2 separate regions of the Homo sapiens genome follow, and region 1 is linked to region 2. Evidence: fine-mapped expression QTL. Tissue or cell type: NK cells. Region 2 holds a variant in brackets; the other region holds the start of a gene. All regions are shown on one strand. Distances are from middle to middle.

Region 1 (5,385 bases), 34 kb after region 2:
CCATGTTACTTCTTGGGCATCACAAAATGTATCCACACACTGCCCAATCCCAGAAGAGAAATTGATCAGTCCAGCGATGAAAACAAAACAAAACAATCCCCAAAAATCCCCAAATGCCAGTTCATTGCCATAATAATTTCAAGTCAATTTGCCAAATACTCTTTCACTTTTCAACCGATTACAAGGAGATTGATCTATCTATCTATCTATCTATCTATCTATCTATCTATCTATCTATCATCTATCTATGTATCTCCAATATAACTCTGGGGCTTTGTCATATGTACATATATATGAATTTTACATACCTTTCAGTTGTGTATATATTTGAGGTGTGGTGTGTGTCTGAAGTCTAAAGACTATAATGATACCTTGGGGAAGTTTCTTGTTGTCCTTATGTTTCTGAATCTCCATCTGGAAAATAATTAATATCCATTACATAATGTACATGGGAGCATTAACACGCTTGACCCAGTGGGCTATTTAAACATGAGAGCATTATAATTGTTCTGCAACAGATTTGCAAGATGTGATTTTAGAGATGCCTTTGTCCAAAGGGAAAATCTCCCCCAATGTCTGGAATAGGTCTCCTTATGGGACTTATTCTTTATGGGACTGAAAGGGGCAACATGTAGTAAATATTTTCATCTGTGAAATCCTCTACTCATGGGGAATAAATATTGACTATTTTAACTTTCTGGTCAAAGCATTCTTATTCATTGCTGTAGGCATTGTTAACAGTTTAAAATTAGAATGTTCAGCATTTTCCTTCTAAAATATATTATTTTCCCAAGACTTTGATTTTGGAATTGTACCATACATTTCCGGATGTATCATTAGTCATAGGATAATTTTTTAAAAAGTGACTCTCTTCAATTCTGGTATGTTGTCCTTACACACGCAATCCTTTCCTTTTTAAATTGTTGTCCATGTATATCTTAGAATTAGTCAAAAGAATTTTTAAAACTGTAAAACAATAAACATTTTGGGAGAAGCACTTTGATCCCAGATCTTATGTAATTGTCATTATTTTTCACTATAAGCCAACCATATCTTTGACTCCACTGTCATATTTTTATTCTCTTAATATAATCAAAAAAGGAAAACATTCTATAGGAAGTCATTTCCTTATTATAATGCAATCCCAGATTCTATTTAGCTCATTTGGTTTGTTTGTTTATTTGCTTTCCCCGGGGGCAAAAATATGTTATTTTCTTATTCTGGCTTAAAAAATTTTAAGTCATAATTTCTGATTTCACCAGTAAAACTAAACAATTTTGGCTCTAGCCAGCTGTTGGGAAAACTCAAAAGAAATTTAGGTGCTACAGAAAGAGAGGTTAGTAATTCCAATTGTTCAGCTCTTGCCTTTAGAGTATTCTCTGAGTTGTGTTGGAGTATGTTATTGAGTTGCTGTGAACTACTGCTGCCAACTTCTACCCTAGAGATGGCTATATTTCAGAGATGAGTGAAATTATATTTGTAAACAAGTTTATAATCATTAATAAAGCTTACCAATTTAAGCTCTTCAGAAATACACATCCACTATTATAATTTTCTATTGTTTAATTACAACCTTTAATAGAGACATGAAGACTTTTAAAATGTATAAGAACTCTAAACTTAATTAAATTTGATTTCATGATGTTTATTTGGTTTTTGTAAGTTTCAGGTGTCAAATTATTTCTCCTTAGAGATCCTGGTGAAATTCCACCATTGACTGTTCCAACGTACTGTTTAAAAATCCCTAAGAATATTTTTCTTTAAAGTTGACAACTGTGCACTCTGGGATCCAGATGCTATATTCGCAGTACGATGATTTTGTTCTGTTTTCCACACATGGCCTTTTCATACACTGTCTCCCAGGGATGAAAAATTCTGCCTTGAATGAGAAGTTTTAAACCTTGCTTGAAAATAATAAACACGATACTTTACATGTTTATGGCCATTTAAGTTAAAAAAACGTGCATTTACATGTATCATATTGTTTTACTCTCAAAATTAGTCTTGTAAAGGGAAAAAAGGCATTAAGTAATTCAGTAAATTGTCTGCTGCATGCTAGCCACTATGAAGGGACTGCATGATAGACAAGGCAGTCCCAAAACTTAGAATTTCCTTGGGAAGGTAAGACACGAACAGAATTAACAGCAATGGGGTGGTACATAAGCGTCTCTTCCAATTGAGAAATAGAGGGGCAAAAGGAGATTTATGTGCCGCATTGTGCTAGGAAAGGCACATGTATTATCCCCTGAAACTCGAAACCCGTGTTTGGGGCATGGTCTCCACATGATTTGCACAGTCCACCACAGTGTGAGTCCCCACGGGGGTCCTTTTGACGTCGAGCCCATAGAGTCGTGATGGAGTCTTAGACATGAGGTAGAACTGGCTTTTTTACTCGTGAAAACACTGAGGCTCATGGAGGTGAAATGACTCGGCCAAGGTCACACACACTGATAGCGGCAGAGGCGCGGCCGGAACCAGGTCTTCTGATGCCAGCCCAGTGCCTCCCTACATCTCTACTCCCTGTGGAAACTATTTGCTTCCCTATCGCCCTTCGTCTGGGTGGGGGATGTCATTTTCAGTCAATTTACGGACTTTTCAAAAAGAGAAGGGTGGATAGGAGATTGGAGAAAAGTTTCCTTTCGGTCAGTGAAGAGGCCTGATTCGTTCCAACACCATTTATGGACCTGCTCCTGCCAGGCACTGGGCATCCAGGACACAGCGAACACAGATCCCCTGCCCTCAAAGACGCCCTAGTTAGGGGCGTCTCCGGGTCTTTGATGACCTCCTCTCACGAGCGGTCCCCAGCCCTCCCCAGGGCTCACCTGCCGGCCTCTGCAGGTACCCACGTCCCTAGGACCCGCCACTGGGCCAGGCCCAAGCAGCATCAAGCCCCGGGTCCCCGCCATTGCGCCCGCGTCGCGCGCCTCCAGTCGCCACGGCAACCAGGGAGGTGCTGACCCCTGACCTCGAGGCCCCGCCCCTTCACGTTCCCGAGACCAACATGGAGAAGGCCAACCCGGAAGTGCCGCCGCAGCCGCCCGCCCGGTGTTAGGAGCCGCCGGCCGGGCCAGGCCGAACCAAGCGCCCGCAGCCCTGCAGCCCGCTGCCCGCCCCACGTCCCGCCGGCGCCGGGGCGGCCGCGTTCCCCGCCCTCCCCCACTCCACCCCTGGCTACCCGCTCCCGCCCGAGAGGAGGAGCTGAGGCGAGGGGGAGGAGGAGGAGGGAGAGGTTTGCGAGAGGGAGCGAGGCCGCGTTAGCCGCCGGCGGTTCGTATTACCGGGGTCGGGAGGAGGAGCCGGGCCGAGCCTGCGGACGAACGCCGGGCGGGCGGGAGGCGCGGAGGCAGCGGAGGCTGCTCGGCCGCAAGGAGGCAGGCGGGAGGCCAGGGGTGCAGAATTGGGGCGGGGGCTCCCTTCACCCCCGCAGCCCTCCGCCCGGGTCCGTGTGGCCAGGCCTCACGTGCCCCGCAGGCCTGGGGAAGGTGGAGACAGGGGCGGGGGTCCGCGCAGAGGCCTGCACGGCGCGGCCAGGTGATGGTGGGCCTCTGTGTTTCTCCAGACGAAAGGGGACCCCCGGAGCGGCCGTGCCCCTGGGCTGCCCCCGCGAGGCGTTTTGACATCAGCCATAGGGAAGTCGGGGAGCCCTGAGCCTGCCTGTTTCCGTTAAGTGTCCTTAGGATGCAGTGATTAAGGAATTAGGCTCTCCCTCCGGGAGGGGCACTGCCTGTGCTAGGGAACTCGGGGGCAGAGAAACAGGACAGGATGATGCTGTCCGAGCAAGCCCAAAAGTGGTTTCCAACCCACGTGCAGGTCACAGTGCTCCAAGCCAAAGATCTGAAGCCAAAAGGCAAAAGTGGTACCAATGACACATACACTATAATTCAGCTGGGCAAGGAAAAGTACTCCACCTCTGTAGCTGAGAAAACCCTTGAGCCAGTTTGGAAGGAGGAGGCCTCTTTCGAGCTACCTGGATTGCTAATTCAGGGAAGTCCAGAGAAATACATTCTTTTCCTTATAGTTATGCACAGGTCCCTGGTGGGTCTGGATAAATTTTTAGGGCAGGTGGCAATCAATCTCAATGACATCTTTGAGGACAAACAAAGAAGGAAAACAGAGTAAGTTATGTAATTTATTTTGAATTTGGGGGAGTTTATATCTTATTTATGGTTTTTCTGTTCTTGGAAATTATCCGTATACTTCGGGCGTTGGTTTTTGGATTGAAATATGATCCAGTTTTAAGCACCATATTTGCATGAATCTGAAGTAAAAGTAGCACTCGTGATGAAATATTTTTTAAATGGAATCATTAATGATCCCTTATTCTTTCTGTTAAACATCTGTCAAATAATTGAATATTTTGTGGTGGATTTTAAGTAAGTTAACATTGTTTCAGTATGAGGACTGGATCACAGTATTGACCAACTAGAACTTCATATAAATTGTTATGGATTTTAAACCTTACAATTATCAATGAAATGGAAGATGAGAAATTAAATCTGGCAATGTAATGTTGATGTGTCGCACTTTGTAGCTGTCAAAAGATAAATCACCAGATTTAGAACTCAGTATTTCGTTTCAGCGTTATAAACACAGCTTTTATTTTAGCTCAGCCATTTTTCAGGGTCAGTGTGCCTTGATGGGAGTCTATACCTGTTAGAAAAAAAAAAAGTTTTAAAAGTATGTACAGACATCCTCAACTTCGAATGCACTTACATTTTCCTTTGAATTTGCAATTACATCAGAGTTATTGTATTCAGAATTGATTTTCCAAAGCTATTGTGTTTAGACCATATTAAATGCTGTAGGATGGAGAGAATGATAAATTTTTGTGATGAAATGATTTGATAACATCTTCAGTGGTCTTTTCAGTATGACTTTTGAGCTTGAGTTAGATACATTTTAATTTAAAAAATCATAATATAAATTAACACTAGGATATTGTGTCTTAAATTGAAAAAAAATATGTTTTTAGAGTTAAGTATACTCACCCCTTCCATAAACTTAAAAGGACATTATATTAATGAAATTAGTGAGAGAAAAATACTGGTTGAACTTCTAAGAGGACTTTCCATTTCCAAAATAGTGTTGGTGTTTTGTTCAGTTATAATTGAATTTATTTACTCTTTAAAAAACTTTCTTACAATGATATTTTTCTTGAAGTTTATGTTAATTCTTTACATTTTAAAACGACTCTCTCTTGTTCTTTTCTGTACATTTCTACTCTCAGGCTTCTCTTGATTGGAGTTTTTTTGTTTCATTTTAAATCAGGTCTTAACCTAAGATTTAATATATGTGGAGTAAAAGTGTAGAGAGATCAGAAATACTAGGAATGCAGGAGGAAAAATGGTACCATTTAATTGAGATGAAAATATTTTAGAAGGAGAG
Region 2 (5,385 bases):
TGGTTATACGATAGAAAACAGAAACTTTTTGTTTTGATTGTATTTTTAAAATGAATATTTGAGCCAAAAGATATGTCAAAAGCAAACAGTTTTAAAGTACTTAATACTTTTAAACTTAACATTACTTTCTGCTTGGCAGGTTCACTGACACTTTGATGATTTGATGCATAATACAGAAGGTTTTAGTAGGATACAAGGATCTTATTTTATGTAAGACCTAAATAAAATATTCTGCTCATGACAAAAATTGTAATTCAATCAAAAGACAACTGATCCTACCCACTCTGGTCTTATGTTTCCCCATTTGTAAAAGGAGTGGGTCCAATGAGAGGGTCTTCAAGCCCCCCTTCTAACTCTAAAAATTTATAATTCTGAGGTCCTGCATTTCCCAAAGATATAAAATGCTTGATCTTGGTGTTGATCAGATAACCAAAGAAGCAAACACGGCCTAGTGCAGTGGCTCAGGCCAGACGTGGTGGCTCACGCCTGTAATCCCAGCACTTTGAGAGGACGAGGCAGGCGGATCACTTGAGGTCGGGAGTTCAAGACCAGGCTGACCAACATGGAGAAACCCTGTCTCTACTGAAAAAACAAAATTAGCCAGACGTGGTGGCACATGCCTGTAATCCCAGCTACTCGGGAGGCTGAGGCAGCAGAATTGCTTGAACCCAGGAGGCAGAGGTTGCAGTGAGCCGAGATGGCGCCATTGCACTCCCGCCTGGGCAACAAGAGTGAAACTCTGTCAAAAAAAAAAAAAAAAAAAAGAAGAAGAAAACACAAGTTAAAATATTAGAAAAATTATATACTTCTGAGTTTATTAACCAAACACACTAAATATTTGTGTATTCACAATTTCCCTATCTTAAAATTATCTAAAAGTCCAACATCCAGCCTGGTTAAGTGTCATTTTTTATATTTGTAATTAAAAACAAAACAACTACTCAATGTTATCATGTACCAAAATTGCATGTCAGGAACAAAACATTAGTGAGTTGAATTGCAGTCATCGTATATGTCATATTTCAGTGCTTGATTCTAGTCTGAGACAGAGACATATATGGCTCCATATCTCTTTAAAATTTTTAAAAAATTGCACGTCTGTCTTTTTCTGATTTGATGTAAGGCTTTAATGTTGATATGCTATTTTATAGGCTCCTTAAACTAAAAAAACTAGTGTAGATAAAAAACAAACTATATGTCTAAGAAATTTACCCTGAACAAAGGCTGAGAGGGAAAAAAACCTTCATTATTTTAGCTGAAAAATGGCAGATTAGTTCATTGAGTTTTAACCAAGACTTAAACCCAGCATAAGTTTGGGGTGGGATAAGGTCAGTAGGTACGGGTGTTGGGGGGGCGCCTACAAGAGCCCCTTATGGCCCAGCTGAGGTCTCATACTTCTTTACTTTTGAGATTATTTCTAAAAGAGATTAAATATTCTGTTATTCTATTTATTTTGTGCTACACGCAATAATTTATAAAATATCATTTGAAATACACTAACATTTAGGAAATCTGATTTTGCAATTTGTTCATTTTTTTAATGTATTCAGAAGCCTTGAGAAATGTAGCGGACTTGATGACTTGATTGTGGCTTCATTATTGGTTTCTAGAGCTGCTTATTGGTTACTGACAGAATCTAAGCTCCATGAAACATGGGATGTTTGTCTATTTCACTCATTGCTGTGTCCCCAGTGCCCAGAACAGTCCCTGGCACACAGCAGGCACTCAAACAAAATTTGGCTAATAAATAAAGGACATTAGTATATTTGTGATTTCTGTTTGCAAAATGTCCATTCTCGAGTGAGAGAGAGGACTTTGGGGAAGCCTGCAGGAATTAATTGATAAATAATGTAATATTTCAATCTTTCTATGGGATAGCCCTCAAATTGTGTTCTGATCCATTCTTTAAAACAAGAAAAAGTGAATAAGCAAATACCCAATAAAAGCAGGCAGCAGTAATAGATAATACAAACGAGGATGCAATTTTTAGTTACTTTTCAAACTCTCTCTCTCTCTCTCTCTCTCTCACTTCAGGCTGTTTATATTGGTCAGAAGAGAATTGGATGGATGGATGGATGGATGGATGGATGGATGGATGGATGGACAAATAGGTAAGACTGGGAAAGACTGACTGCTTTATCTCCCCTTTAGAAACTTGATAATTATAGCAATAATAGCTAATACAGGGCATACATGGTGCTTATCTTGTGTCAGGCTCTGTTCTAAGGGCTTTATATATACGATATATATCAATGGAAGTAATTCTCACAACTACTCTGAGAGATATGCCCTATTTCTGACTCCATTTTGCAGATGAGGAAATTGAGGTGCAGAGATATTGACTTGCCCAAGATCACACATTTAGTCAGTGGTGGAATCAAAAGTTAGATCACAGTGGGGTCTCTGGAGTCCACACTCCTAACCACTTTGGTGTAGTGCCTCTAAGACTCAGTAAAGAAACATCTCTACCTCTCTTTAACCCACTGTTCCCAAAATTATTTGACCACAATGTACCAGTCAATATCTTTAGAACATAATCTGGCAAACGCAGAAGCATGATATTTGTTTGGTACCTTACAAGTCAAAATGTTTGACCTTGT[A/G]AATAGGGAAATGAGTTATAATCAGAAATGTTCTCCTAATTTTAGGAAAGAGTTAGCATGAATTGAGTTTGAATTCTCAGCTTCCACATGCCATATAACTCACCTATGAAACAACAGAAGGAGGCAAGATATTCTTTGCCATTTCTTAAAAATGAAACAACTTCTTTGATTGATATTCGTGAGTTGCAAACCAAACAAAACTATGTAAAAAAGTGCATAGCTGGCAAAATGGCATGACAAATGATACCACGAAGTTCATGAGGAAAGAAAGCTAAGAAACGTTCCATTCTCCAAAGTAATTGAAACCTAGGCTTTACCATTCACTCATGAACCATTCCAGCTGAGAGGTTCTTCTCACAGCCACCAGCAGACCCTGAGTGAACCCTGGTGCAAAATCTAACGTAGAACACTGCTGTGTTGTGCATGCCTGCATAGGCCCTCAGGAAGGGGAAATAGGTTTGGCTAGGTAAGGATATATTTCTTAGGGAATAGGAAAGACAAGCTTGCCCCTCTCAAAGGCACACAATCCAGGTCTGCCATACAGAAGAGGGAGCTTTGAGCATCTTTATTTTAGCTGCATTGTGAATTCCTGCTCCCATCCACCAATATCAAGTTTAAGGTGGGGAAGGGTGTCAGGTGGGAATGACAGAAGGGCAAGACCCACAGGTAGAAAAAGAAGCTGCCAAGTCACTCCATTCTCACCCCTTGTCACCTGGGGTGGACATCAATGGCAGCTTTGTCTTAAACAAGAGCTTTGGTCAAGCAAAGGCCTTTTGCAATACGCCGACAGCTTTGGTTTAGTTTTACCACTAATCAGTGCTGAATGGAACGTGGATTCAATACACTCTCAAAAGGAAAGCGCTTGGTAAGCTGAGGCTTTCTGGGTTTTCTCTGGAACTTTTTTATTAAAATTCTGATTATTGCTGGGTCTACAAATCAGATAGTAAAAGAATCCAGAATATATGGCCATGCTTCATAATGCATAGCATATGAACTAACTTGCAAACCATGCTCTTTTAAATAATGAGTAGAGGAAAACTGGCTTTTAATTATTTTACTGCTAAGCTCTAAAGTTTATTTTACTAAATATAACTTTTAATGTTATTAATTAACATAACTTTTGAACAAAGGAAATATCCTATGTTGATGACTGTAAAGAATCACACGCATATCCATTCTCATAGTCTTCCAAAGTTAAAGGTACAGTATGAGATACATCATTCAAATACATAATGGAATCCTTGAGTGGTTCAATGGATGGCTTGAATTAATAAAAACATAGGGAAATTATTCTTTAAAACCATGAATTCACAACTACAAAGCCTATTTTTGCTTTGCTATTATTAATACAATAAGAGGTTTGACTTTGACCCTGAAATCACAAACGTGGAAAACATTAACAGTATTATATTGACATGTCTGAGCCTCTCTTTTTCTGTATTAAACTGAGGCTTCTGATAAGTTTGAAGGAGTCCCTATGGCACCAAATAAAACTAAACAATTTATACAGCCTAAGATCAAGGAGGTCTAGTGAACCAAAAGATCCCAGCTCCCTGATAAAAGGAAGTCTATTTGAAACCACTGGCAATTATTAACGTTTTAAAACTATAATTTAAGAAATCATTCTTGTTAAAAATAAATATTAACCTTTTGGAAAATCTAACCTTTCTAATAATCTATATAACAGGCTTTTCAAAAACATTTCAGATTCATGTTGATAAAAATGTGTTCATATTATTAACCTAGCCTTTTTCCCTCAACCATGATACATTTAAACTAAGAATGAATTAGAAGGCTGCAATTGTCTTTAATGTAATAGCATATCTATTATAATAAATTGTCTTTTGGAATGTTATGGCTTTTCCCCAGAAGTATTTAATTTTTTTTTTTTTTTTTTTTTTTTTTTTTTTTTTTTGAGACGGAGTCTCGCTCTGTAGCCCAGGCTGGCTCTGTAGCCCAGGCTGGAGTGCAACGGCGCGATCTCGGCTCACTGCAAGCTCCGCCTCCCGGGTTCCCGCCATTCTCCTGCCTCAGCCTCCGGAGTAGCTGGGACTACAGGCGCCCGCCACCACACCTGGCTAATTTTTTGTATTTTTAGTAGAGACGGGGTTTCACCGTGTTAGCCAAGATGGTCTTGATCTCCTGACCTCGTGATCCGCCCGCCTCGGCCTCCCGAAGTGCTGGGATTACAGGCGTGAGCCACCGCGCCCGACCTCATAAGTATTTAATTCTTAAGATTGGGTTTTGGTAACAAAATAAGATGGGATTTTTGTCTTCCAGATCATCACTTAATCTCCTCTGGGGTAACAGAGCAGCAGTTTGTTATAACCTGTGAGTTCTGCAGGGTTACTCTGTACATCCCTACCAGGGAAACTGCTGTGGTGTCACAGATTACAGTGGAAGACACATGCTGCCTTTCTCTTGTTTTCAATCTAAATAGGCCAGTAGCCATGAGCCATGCTTGAGATGGAACATACTCCAGAGATAAGCATATAACAAAGTGGAGTAGCTAGGAAGCAATTGTCACTCGTTGTGATACTTCAAATCAGTATTCAAGACTAGCTTACCCCAAGTGGGATAACAGGCCTTTTGTAGCCTGAAAAGAATGTGCATGAATCTGAGTGCCTATAAATATTGTTGCCTACAGCTTGGTGGTTCTTTGGACGTCATGTTTTCTTTGACTTTCTATTGAAATTACCACTTTGGTAAAGCTTGCAGGATAAACCTTATTTCCAAAAATAGTTTTTGTCAGAGAAATAAAGCAAAAAAAAAAAAATTGTGAATC

Direction of the effects. Positions count from the first base shown, and alleles are read on the strand shown. Sizes are in standard deviations (SD) of each study's normalised expression.
As copies of G replace A in region 2, the expression in NK cells of the gene that starts at base 2,985 in region 1 goes down (large effect, 1.2 SD a copy in Gilchrist 2021).

What was found. PIP is the estimated chance that this variant, and not a neighbour inherited with it, causes the effect.
Region 1: it holds the start of RAB11FIP2, and the variant in region 2 is fine-mapped to the expression of RAB11FIP2 in NK cells (Gilchrist 2021, PIP 0.95).

Annotation. Positions count from the first base shown.
Region 1 is chr10:118,044,541-118,049,925 of GRCh38, reverse strand. RAB11FIP2 (RAB11 family interacting protein 2) reads left to right here and starts at 2,985. Exons shown (of 5, transcript NM_014904.3): 1 at 2,985-4,115. The coding sequence starts at 3,763. CASC2 (cancer susceptibility 2) reads right to left here and starts at 3,105. Exons shown (of 4, transcript NR_026940.1): 1 at 2,823-3,105; 2 at 309-414. RefSeq lists a silencer at 3,058-3,547.
Region 2 is chr10:118,078,453-118,083,837 of GRCh38, reverse strand. All of the region lies in intron 3 of CASC2 (cancer susceptibility 2), which reads right to left. Among named protein-coding and RNA genes, the nearest start is that of RAB11FIP2, 34 kb to the right of the region's middle. The variant A/G (reference allele first, on the strand shown) is at 2,601.